Regions from separate parts of the Homo sapiens genome. Here region 2 is linked to region 1. Evidence: fine-mapped expression QTL. Tissue or cell type: amygdala. Region 1 holds a variant in brackets; the other region holds the start of a gene. All regions are shown on one strand. Distances are from middle to middle.

Evidence for each region. PIP is the estimated chance that this variant, and not a neighbour inherited with it, causes the effect.
Region 2: LINC02734 starts here. The variant in region 1 is fine-mapped to the expression of LINC02734 in amygdala (GTEx, PIP above 0.99).

The regions. Positions count from the first base shown.
Region 1 is chr11:83,759,817-83,767,926 of GRCh38, reverse strand. All of the region lies in intron 18 of DLG2 (discs large MAGUK scaffold protein 2), which reads left to right. Among named protein-coding and RNA genes, the nearest start is that of DLG2-AS2, 130 kb to the right of the region's middle. The variant A/G (reference allele first, on the strand shown) is at 3,158.
Region 2 is chr11:82,778,387-82,786,496 of GRCh38, reverse strand. LINC02734 (long intergenic non-protein coding RNA 2734) reads right to left here and starts at 4,995. Exons shown (of 3, transcript NR_183631.1): 1 at 4,902-4,995.

The DNA.
Region 1 (8,110 bases):
GCTGCATGACCTTGTGATAGTTATTTAGCCTCTCCAACCTTCAGATTTCTCATCTGTGAAAAGGGACTAACACCTACTTCATAGGGTAATTTTGATGGACAAGTTATAATAATAATTTCCGGCTGATAGAAAGTATCCGGGAGGTATTAATTACTAAAATAATGAAAAAAAAAGTTAATCTTGCAAAGTGCCTACTGTATATCAGATAGGGTTCTATGTATTCCATGTATTAATTAATGTAATCCCTAAAACAAGCCTGTGAGATAGGGGCTATGATTGTTTCCTTTTCAGAGATGAAGAAACAAAGGCACAGAAAGGCTCAATAACTTGCCCAAGATCACACAGCAAAGTATTAGTGCTGAGATTAAAATTCTGGTCTGGCTGTAGCCTCCCTGCTCTTGACCATCAGAGCCTGCTACCTTTTTATTGTAAAATGATAGCCTGTTTTAGTTTCTTCACAGCATTTGTCACCACATATAATTACCATATTTATTTGCCATGGTCTTCCTTCTCCCAGTTGAAAATAAGCTCCATGAGAACAAGGACCTAATTGAATTATAACTGTAATCCCAGGTGATGGGATAATTCTCTAATCAAATAATTATTACTACCATGACACACATTTACCTATGTAACAAATCCTCACATTTTGCACATGTACCCCAGAACTTAAAAGTAGAGGGGAAAATATAAAATAAAATTTTATCCTAAAAAAAGAACACTACAGAATAATTAATCCCAAAATGTCCATATCCCAATACCTAAAACCTATGATTACGTCACCTTATAAGGCAAATAGGACTTTTCAGATGTGACGAAATTAAGGATCTTGAGATGAGAAGTCAATCCTAGATTATCTGGATGTGCCTAATCTAATCACAAGGGCCTTTTGATAGAAAAAGAGAGGCAGGAGAGTCAGAGAAGAAGATGTTATGACAGAAGCAGAGACCAGATTGACAGCCCGAGAAAGACTATACAGGGCATCGCTGGCTTTGAAGACAGTTTCTTCCCTGGACCTCTAGGAGGAATGCAGTGCTGTGGACAGATAATTTATTCCAGTGAAACCTATTTTTGTCTTCTAAACTCTAGACTCTCAGATAAATGTATGTTGCTGTGAGCTACTAAGAAAAAATGATAATAATTGTATTTACTACTGGTAAATAAGAATGTTAAGAAACCATAAAAGATGATGAGAGAATCAAGTTAGAAAAATGAAAGAAAATATATGTAAGAAATTAAGATTCTAAGAGACAATAGCAAACAAAAGCATTGCTAATAATGACTCAGAAGCATTCCCACAAATTAACAGGCAGTTTGTTAGAAAAGATAACCTTGGCAAAATACATGGTACCTGTATTTTCCCTCAATTGCTGATAATATAATTAAAGGCACACAATCTCATTTTTCCTCATTTTTCAAATTTATAAGAAGGAGGAACACAGTGGAATCTGCATTGCCATGGAACACAAAGAAGAATACCAAAGATAAATAGGCTTAACTCATAACTCATTATAAAAAAAAAAAAAAAAAGGCAGGCCAGGCATGGTGGCTCACACCTGTAATCCCAGCACTTTGGGAGGCTGAGATGGGTGGATCATGAGGTCAGGAGATCGAGACCATCCTGGCTAACATGGTGAAACCCCATCTGTACTAAAAATACAAAAAATTAGCCAGGTGTGGTGGCACGTGCCTGTAGTCCCAGCTACTTGGGAAGCTGAGGCAGGAGAATTGCTTGAACTCGGGAGGCAGAGGTTGCAGTGAGCCGAGATCACGTCACTGCACTCCAGCCTGGGTGACAGAGTGAGACTCCATCTCAAAAAAAAAAAAAAAAGCATTCAGTGGAATCTCCCAAGATTAGTTTTAATATTCATATTGCTTCTAAGAAGAAAATATGATAATAGCATTTGTCAACATCCAAGTAACTGAGCAAAACACAGTGTCAAGGAAATAAATAAAATGGACATTGTATGCTGTCAAGTGTGCTCTCAAAATTTCATGTGAATCTACTTTTTATTTATTATCTACATCTACATTCCAGACAAACATACACTATCACTATTGAGTATATTTGGGTAGCAATTCTAATACCTTAACTTTCCATTGGTGCACAAAGGCAACAGTTTTCTATCTCTGTTCAGTTGGAGAAACTCAATTGTACATATATTGTGCCTCCTATGTTCCAGCCCTTTGCTAGGCACTAGGAACAAAGACACAGCTCTCACTCTCATAGGCTGAAAAAGCAAGGTCTACTTGGCTACCATGTTTGTCTGTCTGAGACATCTGTCTACATCTTGGATTCTAATGCTGCATTAAATATCTAACCTCTGTTAAAACTGAAGGTATGTTGTTAGTATCATAGGCCCAAATCCAGCCTATGGTGTACAAATGGACACTTTTGTGATTTCTGTTAAACGCCAACCCCAAATCAAAAGCCATTTTCCTTTCTGGATATTAAACAACAATCAAGAGCCAGAATTTTGATTTAGAATGTATTTATAGTATGGAATTTTAAAAGGTAAATATTTCTCCTTTTCAAGACAGAAACTCAGATATCAGGATTATTTTCAGAACAAATCTGCTGCCTCTCAGTATTTTGATTAATTCCTCTAGCAGTAATTTCTTAAAGTATTTGTTTTTAATTCTGTATCCCATCAAGATGTTAATTTTCCATCAAGAGTTTTAGAGAAAATGTGGGCTTAAAAAAATTGTTTTAACACACTGATAAAATAATTCATTTGACATATAGCTATGAGCAGTTCCCCAGGACTTTCTTTAGGCTATATTTTACAATGCCAGGACAAAAAAGAACAAAGAAAGTCAAACATTACTTTTTTCTAACCTGGGATTTGAGGGTACAGGGGAGATGTCATTTTAATACTATAACAGAACATGTAATTTTAAGTAAAGTTTTTAATTGTATTTCTAAAAACATGGATCATATCCAAGTCAAATCTAGAGAGTGTGCCGGCCATCTCTGCCTGACCACACCTACAGGGCAGGCCTATCAGCCTATCATTCTGCAGCCTGAGAGCCGAGTTTGTCTCTCCTCAAGTCTGGGACAGACCACAGACATCTGGCTTCAAAGGCCATAGTATTGTAATGACTAAAATAGAGAACACCTCCTGAGTGAAGAAAGATGCACTGAAATGAAGTGATC[A/G]AAGCACAGACTCTGGAACCAGAGTCCTGTGTTCAAACCCTAAATCTGTCACTTACTAGCTGTGAGACCCTGGGAAAGGCACTTCACCTCTTGGTGTATCAGTCTCTTTATTAATAAAATTGAGATAATAGTAGCTATGTTATAAGATAATTTTGAAGATTAAGTAGGTTAATGTTTATAAAGCTCTTACAATAGTGACTCAATGATAATAAATCCCAAGTGTTGACAGGCAGAAAGATAGAGTAACTCCCATCCAACCTCACCACCACAGCAAGGTCAGTGACATTTGCCTTCTCCCTTCCCTGCACACCCCTTTGGGGCAACTGGCCTTTGTGATTTCCATTTCTTTTCAGCACCACTCATTCAAATTGCTTTAATCTGATTTTTTGGCTAAATATATTCATTCATTAAACAACCATATATTGAATGTCTATGATACATCAGCACTTTGAAGTTCCAAAAGCTGGGAGTGGTAGGGTAGGAAGCTTCTCCCTCCTGCTGTCTCACAATCATTACTCCCTCCACAATCACTCCCACCGTGATTTTCTCAGCTCTGCACCTGTCTCAGGGGATCTGGTAGCCAATGCTTATGTGATTCCAGCCATGCGATAGTACTGCTGTGATTTTACATAAGCTGGTATGAGGCATACTCCCATTCATTAAGAAATGGCTTCTCTTTCCTAAATAACCCATCTGTAGTTAGAATCCACCAAACAGTTTTCAGAGGCTCTTGTTCAAACAAATGGCCAACATGGGCTTACCTGAAAGATAAGTTCTGAAATATCTTGAACTGGTCTAAATTAGGTGCAATGACTGTTCTATAAATGGAACCACTTTATAAGAATATGAGATCCGGCAAAATAGACAATCAATATTTTTAAAATGAGTTAATAATATGACAGGACCAGTGAGAGAAGAAGGACAGACAATATTGTAGGAACCATTGTGCCTGACTAGAGAGAAATTTCAAAATAAAGAGTGGGATATGGGTCCTGGGGTAATTAACTTTGAGTCTAAAATGCAGCTAATGTGGGATACAGCATTATATGTTATATTCCATTTTAAAAACCTGCCTATTTTAACTATAAGGTATGATCAACTGTAAGATGCAGCCTTATTTCAGGTATATAAAAATGTGGAAAAAGTTGCCTTTTACAATTGATGAAATATGGTGATCATTCACATTTTCCTTGCAACTCACATGGTGAACAGTCACATGTGGCATAAGTGAGATTGGCTGTGGGTTTTTCTATGCATTTATGATAAGTTCACTCCTTTCATTCCTAATGAAGAGAGCAATTTGCAATGCAAGCAAAAGTAAGAAGGAAGCTATAATAGAAACAATCTTGATTCACACTAATTTATTAAAAATCTGTTTTGTGAGAATGCATGGACATAAAGAAAAGAATGAGACACTGGAGTCTACTTGATGGTGGAGGGTGGGAGGAGGGAGAGGATTTAAAAAAAATCTATTGAGTATTATCCTTATTACCTGGGTGACTAAATAATCTGGACACCAAACCCCCACAACACACAGTTTACCTATATAACAAGCCTGCACATATACGCCTAAACCTAAAATAAAAGTTAAAAAAATTCTTAATTTCAGTTCTTTGTACATAATTGCTAAAACGTGATGTAACAGTATGTAATGCACCATAGGGGAGAACTGATGTCCCAAGCTAGCAAAAGGGTAGTATGGCAGCCCTTTATAGGGAACTTTGCCTTCAAGGGTGGACAGGGAGGTTGCTGCTCAAAAAGCCAACCTGGCAGATGGGAACAGAAAATAACAAAACAAAACAAACAACTACTTGCTTGAAACTATATCACAGACTCTGACTCAGATGTTCAAAGCTTCTAAGAAGCTGTCATATAACAATTTAATACTTGGCCAGGCACATTGGCTCACGCCTGTAATCCCAGCACTTTGGAGGGCCGAGGCAGGCAGATCACGAGGTCAGAAGATCGAGACCATCCTGGTTAACATGGTGAAACCCCGTCTCTACTAAAAATACAAAAAAATTAGCCAGGCGTGGCGGCATGCGCCTGTAGTCCCAGCTGTTGAGTAGGCTGAGGCAGGAGAATGGCATGAACCCAGGAGGCGGAGCTTGCAGTGAGCCGAGATCATGCCACTGCAGTCCAGCCTGGGTGACAGAGCAAGACTCCGTCTCAAAAAAAAAAAAAAAATTAATACTTAATCTCAACACTTAGGTTTGCCATTGTCCTTATCATGAAAATTACTACAATTCCCAAACTCATGGCACAAACATGTGTTGACAAAATCTATATACAAAATGTGAGGTATAGTCGACAAAATCTTTAGAACAAAATGTGAGGTGATGCTAGAATGTGGTGACAATTTTGCCCTAACTTAATTGGAAAGCCATTGTAACTTGAATAGAATGGTCCACCTGCAGCATGGTCTTCCCTGCTCTGTCACATAGCATCAGAAAGGACCAGATACTTGTTAAGAACATCTTTAAACTGTGTTGTTTATGCTTTTGTTTTTGAGTCAGCAATCGCTGACAGATTTTAGAAACTGGCGGGAATAAAGAATCAGACATTTAATTTGGCAGGGCAGTCTTGTACTTCAGATAAATGGATCTGGATTTGTGATGCCTTCTTCAAAATATTAATTTCTCTTTTGAAACCAAATCATATTTGGCTTCAATATCTTATTTAAAATGCATTTTTACTTACATATCATCTGCTTTGAGCTCTTAAATAGCCTGGGAGTTAGATCATGGACTTTGAGCTTCTCAAGGATTAGAACAGTGTTCTTCTCACGGTTTGTTGGTACTTGCCCAGCATCTGGTAATTACAATAACTCCCTGGGAGATTCAAGGGAAAATTTCAAGCCAAGTAAGAACTGGAAGGGAAAGACCTCCACATCCAAATAAAGATACATTTTATTTAAGTAAGATTTGTTGAGTTGCTATGCTGTTGTGGGATCTGTGCTAGGTAGTGAGTTTATGAGGATGAATGATACAGCTCCCGGCCTCCATGTTTCCCATGTATTAGGGAACACACAACAGCACGTTGTCAAGGGTGATCCAATAGGGGGAAGCACAGGGGGATTAGAGATGTCTATGTAGCCATTTGCATTCAATCAGAAGGAGTCTAGGAGCAGTTAGTCTAGGACCTGAGATATGATGTTGGGGGTAATGGGAAGTAGGAATCCAATTCAGACAGAAATACATGCATACAAATGCAATTCAGACAGAAATAAACAACAGGAACAAAGCTTCAGAGAAGAATGAACAGGGTGCATTTGTTTCAGAGACTATCATTATTCAATATAATTGTAAGTTGCAAATTGTAATTGTAAATTAAGGCATCAACTTGGGATTGGCCAAATATCAGACTGGCAAGGAACCACTAATAGAACTCGAAGTGAATTATTTGTGGAGAATTTAACATAGGAGTTATTTACCAAAAAGTGGGCCAGATGTATTAACACTTGAGAGGTACTCCAGGACTATTAAGTATGGGATTGTTACCCCTCCTAGACGGGGTGTCCTTGTAGCAATTATCCAACTGCAGAGATTCTCCTAAGGAGACTGCAGTGAGGAATCCAGCAAATAAATGCCCATTCTCACTGTCATTCTGCTTCTCATCTCCTGCTAGTGTTGTCCCTTTGCCAAACCCAACCAGAAGCCATATGTGCTCCATGCTTATCAGCTTCCCAGGCACAGATCAGAGTGAAGAAGGGTGGAGAGCTGAGAAGCCAACAAGCAAAATCTATACAGCATAAATCTGAAAAGAAAAATTTGGCTAAACCTTGAAAGGTCTTGTATCTTCTGCTCATTGTCTTATACCTTAAGACAATGAGGTACATTCAAAGGGTGTTAAATAAGGGAATATTTTTATAGAGACAACCCATGATGTACTTGATGTAGGCAGAAAGGTAGGGCAAGACTAGAGAAACAAGGAGGAGTTAGTAAGCTGCTACAGTTGTCTAGGCAAGGGACCGTGGTGTTGAACTGGGAAGATGCCAGTGGAAATGGAAAGAAGGGACTGGATTTGTGACTGATCTATTTGGAGACAGTTTTTTGTTGTTGTTGTTTTTGTTGTTGTTTTTCTGTTTCTGTTTTTAGAATAGATGGAGATGGTGGGCCAGGAGCAGTGGCTCACACCTGTAATCCCAGCCCTTTGGGAGGCCGAGGCAGGTGGATCACCTGAGGTCAGGAGTTTGAGACCAGCCTGGTCAACATGGTGAAACCCTATCTCTACTAAAAATAACAAAAATTAGCCGGGCGTGGTGGCAGGCACCTGTAATCCCAGCTCCAAAAAAAAAAAAGAATAGATGGAGATAGTGAGATTAGAGAAGAAAGTGAGCAGGCATTGAACTGGAAGTCTAGAAATGAGAAAGAATATGTGTTTAGGACTTGGTCTCAGCTTTTGCACTATGCAGCTAAGTGATCCAGTTGATCCAGCCTCTTTTGAGCCTCAATTTTGTTATCTGCCAATAATGGGAATATAAGCTGGACTTCTTAAATTCTTAAATTTAGTATTCTGTTCTTTTTCATTCATCATAAGCCTGGAGACAATTTCTGCCCACCAGGTGAAAGGCTTTTAATGAACTGAGCATGTCAAGGGAACTTCAGGAATTCACAAGAAGAGTCTGAGGATATTGCTCAGCTGAGGGTCTTTTGGATGTTGAGTTTGTTTATTAAGCAATTCAACTGTCAGTGCCTTAGATTTTAATGTAAGGGAATAGAAGGCCACCCATGGAGGGAAAGTTAGTATGTCCTCTCTGCCTTCTAAATATCACAAACCATATTGAATATTATTCATTTTGAAATGATTTAATAAAACATCTTCGGGAGCTTCAAGATTCCGTTTTGAATGTCCTACTTGTGAGTTTTGGAATCTGGGACAGAGCTGAGCTGAGCTGGTAATTATTATCAATGTTGTAATTATTAATTTGGGTTCTGGATGTCCTTTATAGAA
Region 2 (8,110 bases), 980 kb after region 1:
ATCTTGCTGGATGTCCTGAGGGGTAGAAGTGAGGGATAGCGCCCTTTGAGAAGCATCAAGCAAGAGACTGGGTAGGGGATAAAGATTTGTGAGTCCCTTGAATGATGACTCTTTCTCTGCTCTTTAGCGGTACCACCCAGAAGATGCAGAACTTTAGTGGAATCTCTAACCCTGTCCAAGGTTCCCATGCTATAATTAATTTTAAAAAGTAGCTAACATTTACACCTGCTCTAATTCATTTATTTCTCACATAAACTCTATGGGTTAAGTATTATCATTCTCCCCATTTTATAGATTAGAAAACTGAGGTTCAGCTAGGCAGAGACAGAATTTAAACCTGGGGGATTTGGATTTGGTCCCTGAGCCTATTTTTCTAACCATATTTTTCTGTAATTCTGTACTTCTGGGCCAGAACTGGCCTGCAGATTATGCAAGACTGCGTATCAGCAAGAATGACCTATGACTGAGCATATCTCAAAGTCTTGATGCCATGTAAGACCCCAGAACCTTGTAACACCTGGGGAAGGGGTAATCCCAAGAATGGTTGAGGTATAACTTCCTGTCTATAGAGCTGGATGGGAATCTTAGTGTTGAAGTGAAAATGATTAAAAATAAATTTTAAAATGTGAATGTTGTTTTCTCTGTTGTTGTTTATACATTGAGATTCTTATCTGCTAAAAACTGATAAAATGTGGCAAAGGAGTGCAAAAAAAGTATTTATATAATCTCACCTAAAATATTAACATTAATAACTCGAATTAATTGAGTGCTTACATATGCCATGAGACATAATTTTTTTTTAAAACGTATATAGATTTTGGGGATACAAGTGCAGTTTTGTTACATGGATATATTGCATAGTGGTGAAATCTGGGCTCTTAGTATAGCCATTACCTGAATAGTGCACACTGTACTCCTCAAGTAATTTCTCATCCCTCACCCCCCTCCCACTCTTCTCAGTCTCCAGTGTCCATTATTCCATGTGTATGAATTATTTCACTCCTGCTTATAACTCCAGTGTCTATGCCCACGTATATGAATTATTTCACTCCCACTTATAACTAAGAACATGCAGTGTTTCATTTTCTGTTTCTGAGTTCACTTAATTGCTTCCAGTTCCATCCATGTTGCTGCAAAAGACATGATTTTGTTCTTCTTATGCTTGAGTAGTATTCCATTGCACATATATATATACACCACATTTTAAAAATCCAATCATCCACTGATGGATACTTGGGTTGATTCCATATCTTTGCAATTGTGAATAGTGCTGAGATAAACATACCTATGCAGGCATCTTTTTAATATAATGATTTATTTTCCCTTGGGTAAATACCCAGTAGTAGTATTGCCAGATCAAATGGTAGTTCTATGTTTAGTTCTTTTAGAAATCTCCATATTGTTTTCCATAGAGGTTGTACTAATTTATTTAATCCTACAGTCTTATGTGGACAGTATTAAGGTCCTAGGGAAATTAAATAACTAGTCCAAGCACAGACCATCACTAAGTTGTGGAGTTAGGATTCAGATCCAGGATAATGTGATTTGAAAGCCATTGCTCTTTTCCAGTATGAAGCATCTAATGCTTCCACACTACCACCACTAGGTAGAAACATCCTCAATGAAATAATACAGGTTTAATTTATGAACATATTAAAAAGCGAATACATCGTAAAACATGTAGTTCAATTGCAGAAATACTAGGAAAATCCAATATTAGTAAATATAATAATAAAATCATCACATATAAATCATCTTGATAAAAGTTAAAAAGTAATTTGAAATGAATTATATACCATGGTTAACTGGAATTTATTCCAGGTATTCAAAACTGATTCAACATTTTAAAAATCAATTAATGTAATTTTTCACATCAACAGACTAGAGAAGAAAAATTATAGAATTTTTCAAATGTAGAGAAAGCATTTGACAAAATCCAACACCCATTCATTATATACATTCTCAGAAAACTAGGAATAGACAGAAACTTCAAGTCTGAGAACAAAATAAGGATGTCTCCCTCACCATTCCTATTCAACTTCACATTGGAAGTCCTAGCTAATGCAATAAAATAAGAAAAGGATTTAAAAGGGATATGGATTGAAAAGGAATAAGTATAACTATGCTTGTGGATGATATAATTATCTATTTGGAAAATTCTAAAGAACCAACAAAAAATCCTGGAACCACTACGTGATTATAGTGAGTTTGTAGGAAAAAAGATTAATATAAAAAACTCAATTGCTTTTCTATCTAATGGCAATGAACAATTAACATTTTAAATTAAAAACACGACTTCTTTTATATTATCACTAAAAATGACATAGTTATAAACTTAACAAAATATGTATAATACTTATATGAGGAAAACTATACAACTGTTAAAAAATCAAAGAAAACAAAAATGAAAAGATATTCCATGTTCACGGACAGCAAGAAAATGTTATTAAAATGTCAGTTCTTCCCATATAGATTTAACATAATCCCAATCAAAATCACAGTAATTTATTTCATGGATATTGGTAAACAGATTCTGAAGTTTATATAGAAAGGAAAAAGAACCAGAATATCCAACACAATATGGAAAAAAAAAATAAAGTCAGAGGATTGGCACTCTATGGCTTCAAGACTTACTATTGAGCCATAGTGATGAAAACATTGACAAAGTAATAGACAAATAGATCAGTGGAACATAATGGAGAGCGCAGAAATAGACCCATGCAAATATAGTTCAACAGGACTTTGACAAAGGAGCAAAGGCAATTCAATGGAGAAAAGGCTTTTCAATAAATAGTGCTGGAACAACTGGACATCACCATGCCAAAAACCAAAATAAACAAAACAAAACTTAGACACAGATTTTACACCTTTCACAAAATGAACTCAAAATGAATCATAGACCTAAACATGACACAAAAAACTACACAACTTCCAGAAGACAACATGGGAGAAAATCTAGGTGACCTTGGGTTTGACGATGACTTTTTAGATATAGTACCAAAAGTATGATCCATGAAAGAAAAAGTTGATAATTTAGACTTCATTAAAATTAAAGACTTCTCTGTGGAAGATAATATTAAGAAAATTTAAAGAAAAGCCACAGACTGGGAGAAGATATTTGCAGAACACATATCTGATAAAGGACTTACACCCAAAATATACAAAACACCCTTAAAACTTAACAATAAACAACCAACCCAATTGTGTTAAAACAACCCAATTACAAAGTGAGCAAAAGATCTGAACTGAAGCACCTCCAAAGAGAATATACAGTTTGCAAATAAGCATATGAACAAATGCCCAACATCATATGTTATTACGTAATTGCAAATTAAGACACCAATACACACCTATTAGAATGGCTAAAATCCAAAACACTGACAACACAAAGTGGTGAAAATATGTAACAACAGGAATCCTCATTCATTGCTGGTGGAAATGCAAAATAGTAGAGCTATTTTGGAAGATAGTCTATCAGTTTCTAACAAAGTTAAACATAGGCTTACCATATGATTCAGCAATTTCACTTCTTGGTATTTGCCCAGATGAGTTGAAAATTTATCCACACAGAAATTTGCACATGAATGCTTATAGCAGTTTTATTCTTGATTGTCAAAAATTGGAAGCAACTAAGATATCCTTCAATGGGTGAATGGAAAAACATACTGTGTACAATGGAATATTATTCAGTGATAAAAGAAATGAACTATAAAACTGTAAAAAGACATGGAGGAAACTTATATGTATATTGCTAAGTGAAAGAAACCAATCTGAAAACCTACTTACTATATGATTCCAACTATTTGACATTCTGGCAAAGACAAAATTATAGAGACAGTAAAAGGATCAATGGTTGTGTTACCGGTTGAAGGTAGTTGTTCAGGTTCTTGGCATTTTGAACAAAGAATTGGACAAAATGCGCAAACAAAGCAAGGCAGCAAAAGCAGAGATTTATTCTAAAAGAAAGTACACTCCTCAGGGTGGCAGTGGGCTCAAGCAAGTGGCTCAAGAGTGTCGGTTACAGATTTTTCTGGGATTTAAATACCATCTAGAGGTTTCCCATTGGTTCACTCTATGCAAACGCAGTAGTGGCCCATCACCAGTCTGATTGGTTGTAGGAGGGGACCAATCAGAGTGAAGAGTAGGCCCATGACCAGTCTGATTGGTTATGGGAAGGGACCATTTAGAGATATTGTCATTTTTCATCTGCCACCCAGAAAAAGGAGGGGTTGAAAAGGAAGTAGCCTCTGATGTCCAGTCAGCATGAATCGGCCTTAGGTTCCCTGCCTCCAGACCCTATTCTCTGCCTCAGTTGGTAGAGGTTTGGAGAAAAGGGACAAATAATTGTAACACAGGGCATTTTTAGGTCAGTGAAACTATTTTGTGTGACACTGGAAGAGTGGATACATGGCATTAAGCATTTGTCAAAATTAATAAAACTGTACAACCCAAAAAATGAACCCTATGGTAAACTATAAACCTTAGTTAATAATAATGAATCAATATTGGCTTATCAGTTGTAACAAATAGCACAAATGCAAGATATTAATCATAAGAGAAACCATGTGTGCATGGGGAGGGTTTTCATGGGAAATCTCAGTTTCCGTACAATTTTTCTGTAAGCCTAAAACAACTCTAAAAAATAAAGTCTATTAAAAATCGTTATTAATAAAATTCAATATCTATTCCTGTTTAAGTGTCTTTGTTTTATCAATGAAAGGTTACGTTTTGAATGTGACAGATTCTACCTATCTTTAGCCACCAGTCAACAATTACTCTATCATTTCTTCTCTCCTCTTTACTGTAAAATTTCCTGAAAGTGTTGGCTATACCCACTCCACTTTCTCATCTTCTAGCCTATCCTAATTCTTCACGATCATAATGAAACCACTCTTGTTTACCAGTAACAATTGCCGTCCTGTGTCAAAAACCGAATGGTTGATCTCAGCCAGCATCTTTCTTGATCTCTCAACAGAATGCAACAGTTTTGTCTCCATGACACTACATTCTTCTCATTTTCTCCTACCTCATTGGCTACTCATGACCAGCTTCTTTTGCTGGCTCTTTCTCTTCATTCTGAATTCTAAATGTTGAGGTGCTATTAGACTCTTCCTTCCCTATATGATCTCATTTAGTATCACGGCTTTCTTTACATAACTTTTACATATTGATGTCCTGGGTTTTATCTCTGGCCCTGACCTCTTCTCTGAGCTCTAAACTCATGAACCCAACAATCTTCACTTTGATTCTAAGAGGCAGGTCCATCACATATAGTTTTAGGTGCACACACACACACATATACTTACACACATATATACATATATATGTCTCAGAATCAATATACATCTCAACATGAAAAAATATATATAACTTAGGGAGGCCAAAGCAGGAGGATTACTTGAGGCCAGGAGTTCAAGACCAGCCTAGGCAACATAGTGAGACTCTGTCTGTACAAAAATTTAAATATATATATTTATGTATCTATATATAAGTCTATATATATAGATATATATAAGATATATCTATATATGTCTATATATATATATATAAATATATATATAAATGTAGATGGCACTCCATTGAATCCCCTAGAGTTGTGCAACACATCATCCTTAAATTCGGTATTTTAAAATTTAAATTTAAATTTAAAATTTAATTAAAATTTAAAATTAACATGGCCAAAAGAGAACATTTTCCTCAAGTTCATTCTTACTCCAGTCTTTCCCAACTGAGTACAAGGCACCATCTTCACTCCCTGTACTACAGAGGCTAGAAAATATACATTTACTGAACTTTCTTGCCATAGGGTTCTAGGTATGATTTAAGTTCTGACAATAAGATGCATTTACTTAAGACTTGGAAGGTGGAGGCCAATCATCTATGATGGTGATGGCTAATGTGTTGGCCCTGGCAGACATGGGATTTGCAACCATCAGTCTATGTTTCCCCATGAGGAACAAGAATGCCATTATGGAACACCGGTCAGAGTGGGGACTAGGGAGATCAGGTGAGAAATCACATTTTGGTCGCATGTGCCTGTAGTCCCAGCTATTTGGGAGGCTCCTGGGAGAATTGCTTGAGCCTGGGAGGTCGAGGCTGTAGTGAGCTGAGATCATCACGCCACTGCACTCCAGCCTGGGTGACAGAGGAAGACCCAGTTTCAAAACAAAAAACAGAAAACAAAACAAACAAACAAACAAAAAGTCATCAGAGATATTGGCCACTAGTTTTCCTTTTTTAACGTGTTTTTTATTTTTTAAGTATTTTTTGAGAGGGAGTCTTGCTCTGTTGCTCAGGCTGGAGTGTGGTGGCACAATCTTGGCTCACTGCAACCTCCATCTCCCAGGTTCAAGTAATTCTGTTGCCTCAGCTTCCTGAGTAGCCAGGACTACAGGCACCCACCACCATGACAGCTAATTTTTGTATTTTTAGTAGAGACTGGATTTTGCCATGTTGGCCAGCCTGGTCTTGAACTCCTGATCTCAGGTGATCCACCCACTTCAGCCTCCCCAAATGCTGGGATTACAGGTGTGAGCCACTGCACTTGGCCTTTTAATGTGTTTTTGTTTGGCTTTAATAACAAAGTCATATTGGCCTTGCAGAATGAGTTTGGAAGTAATCCCTCCTCCTCTATTTTTCAGAAGAGTTTGAGTAGGATTGGTGTTAGTTCTTCTTTAAATGTTTGGTAGAATTCAGCAGTAAAACCACTGGGTCCTGGGCTTTTCTTTACTGGGAGACTTCTTATTATAGCTTTGATGTCATTACTTGTTATTGGTCTGTTCAGGTTTTGGATTTCTTCATGGTTTAATCTTGGTGTGTTGTATATGTCTAGGATATGCCCATTTTTTCTAGATTTCCCAATGTAACGACATAGAATTGGTCATAGTAACCACTAATGATCCTTTGAATTTCTTCAGTATCAGTTATAATGTCTCCTTTTTCATCTCTGATTTTATTTATTTTGACCTTCCCTCTTCTTAGTCTGGCCAATGCTTTGTAAATTTTGCTTAACTTTTCAAGAAAACCATTTTTGTTTGATTGATTATTTTGTATTGTTTTCTTCATTTCAATTTCACTTATTTCTTCTCTGATCTTTATTATTTCTTTTCTTCTACTAATTTTGTGTTTGGTTTGCTCTTGCTTTTCTAGTTATTTAAGGTGTATTGTTAGGTTGTTTATTTGCAGTTTTTCTTCTTTTTTGATGTGGGCACTTATAGCTGTAAATATCCCTTATAGTACTGCTTTTGCTGTATCCCACAGGTTTTGGTCTGTTGTGTTTCCACTATCATTTGTTTCAAGAAAATTTTCCACTTCCTTTTTTATTACTTCATTGGCTCACTGGTCATTCAGGATCATATGGTTTAATTTCCATGTATTTTTATAGTTTCCAAAATTCCTCTTGTTTTTATAGCTTTATTCCATCATGGTCAGAGAAAATGTTTAATATTATTTCAATTGTTTGAATGTTTTAAGACTTATTTTATGACCTAACATATGGTCTATCCTTGAGGATAATCTTTGTGCTGAGGAAAAGATATTCTGCAGCTGTTGGATGAAATGTTGTGTAAATATCTATTAGGTCCATTTGGTATATAGTGCAGATTAAGTCCAATGTTTCTTTGTTGATTTTCTGTCTGGAAGACCTTTCCGATGCTGAAAGTGGGGTGTTAGAGTCTCCAGCTATTATTATATTGGAGTCTATCTCTCTCTTGAGCTCTAATAATATTTGTTTTATATATATGGGTGCTTCAGTGTTGGATGCATATATATAAAATTGTTATATCCTTTTTAGCAATTCAGACCCCTTTATCATTATATAGTGACCTCCTTTGTCTCTTATTATAGTTTTTGTCTTGAAATTTATTTTGTTTGATATAAGTATAGCTACTTCTGCTCTTTTTTGGTTTCTATTGGCATGGAATATACTTTTCCATCCTTTTGTTTTCAGTCTGTGTATTTCTTTATATGTGAAGTGTTTATTTTGTTGGCAACAGATTATTGGGTCTTGTTTGTTTTTAATCCATTCAGGTTCTCTATGTCTTTTGACTGAAAAGTTTAGTCAATTCCATTCAATGTTATTATTGATGAGTAAAAATGTACTTTTGTCATT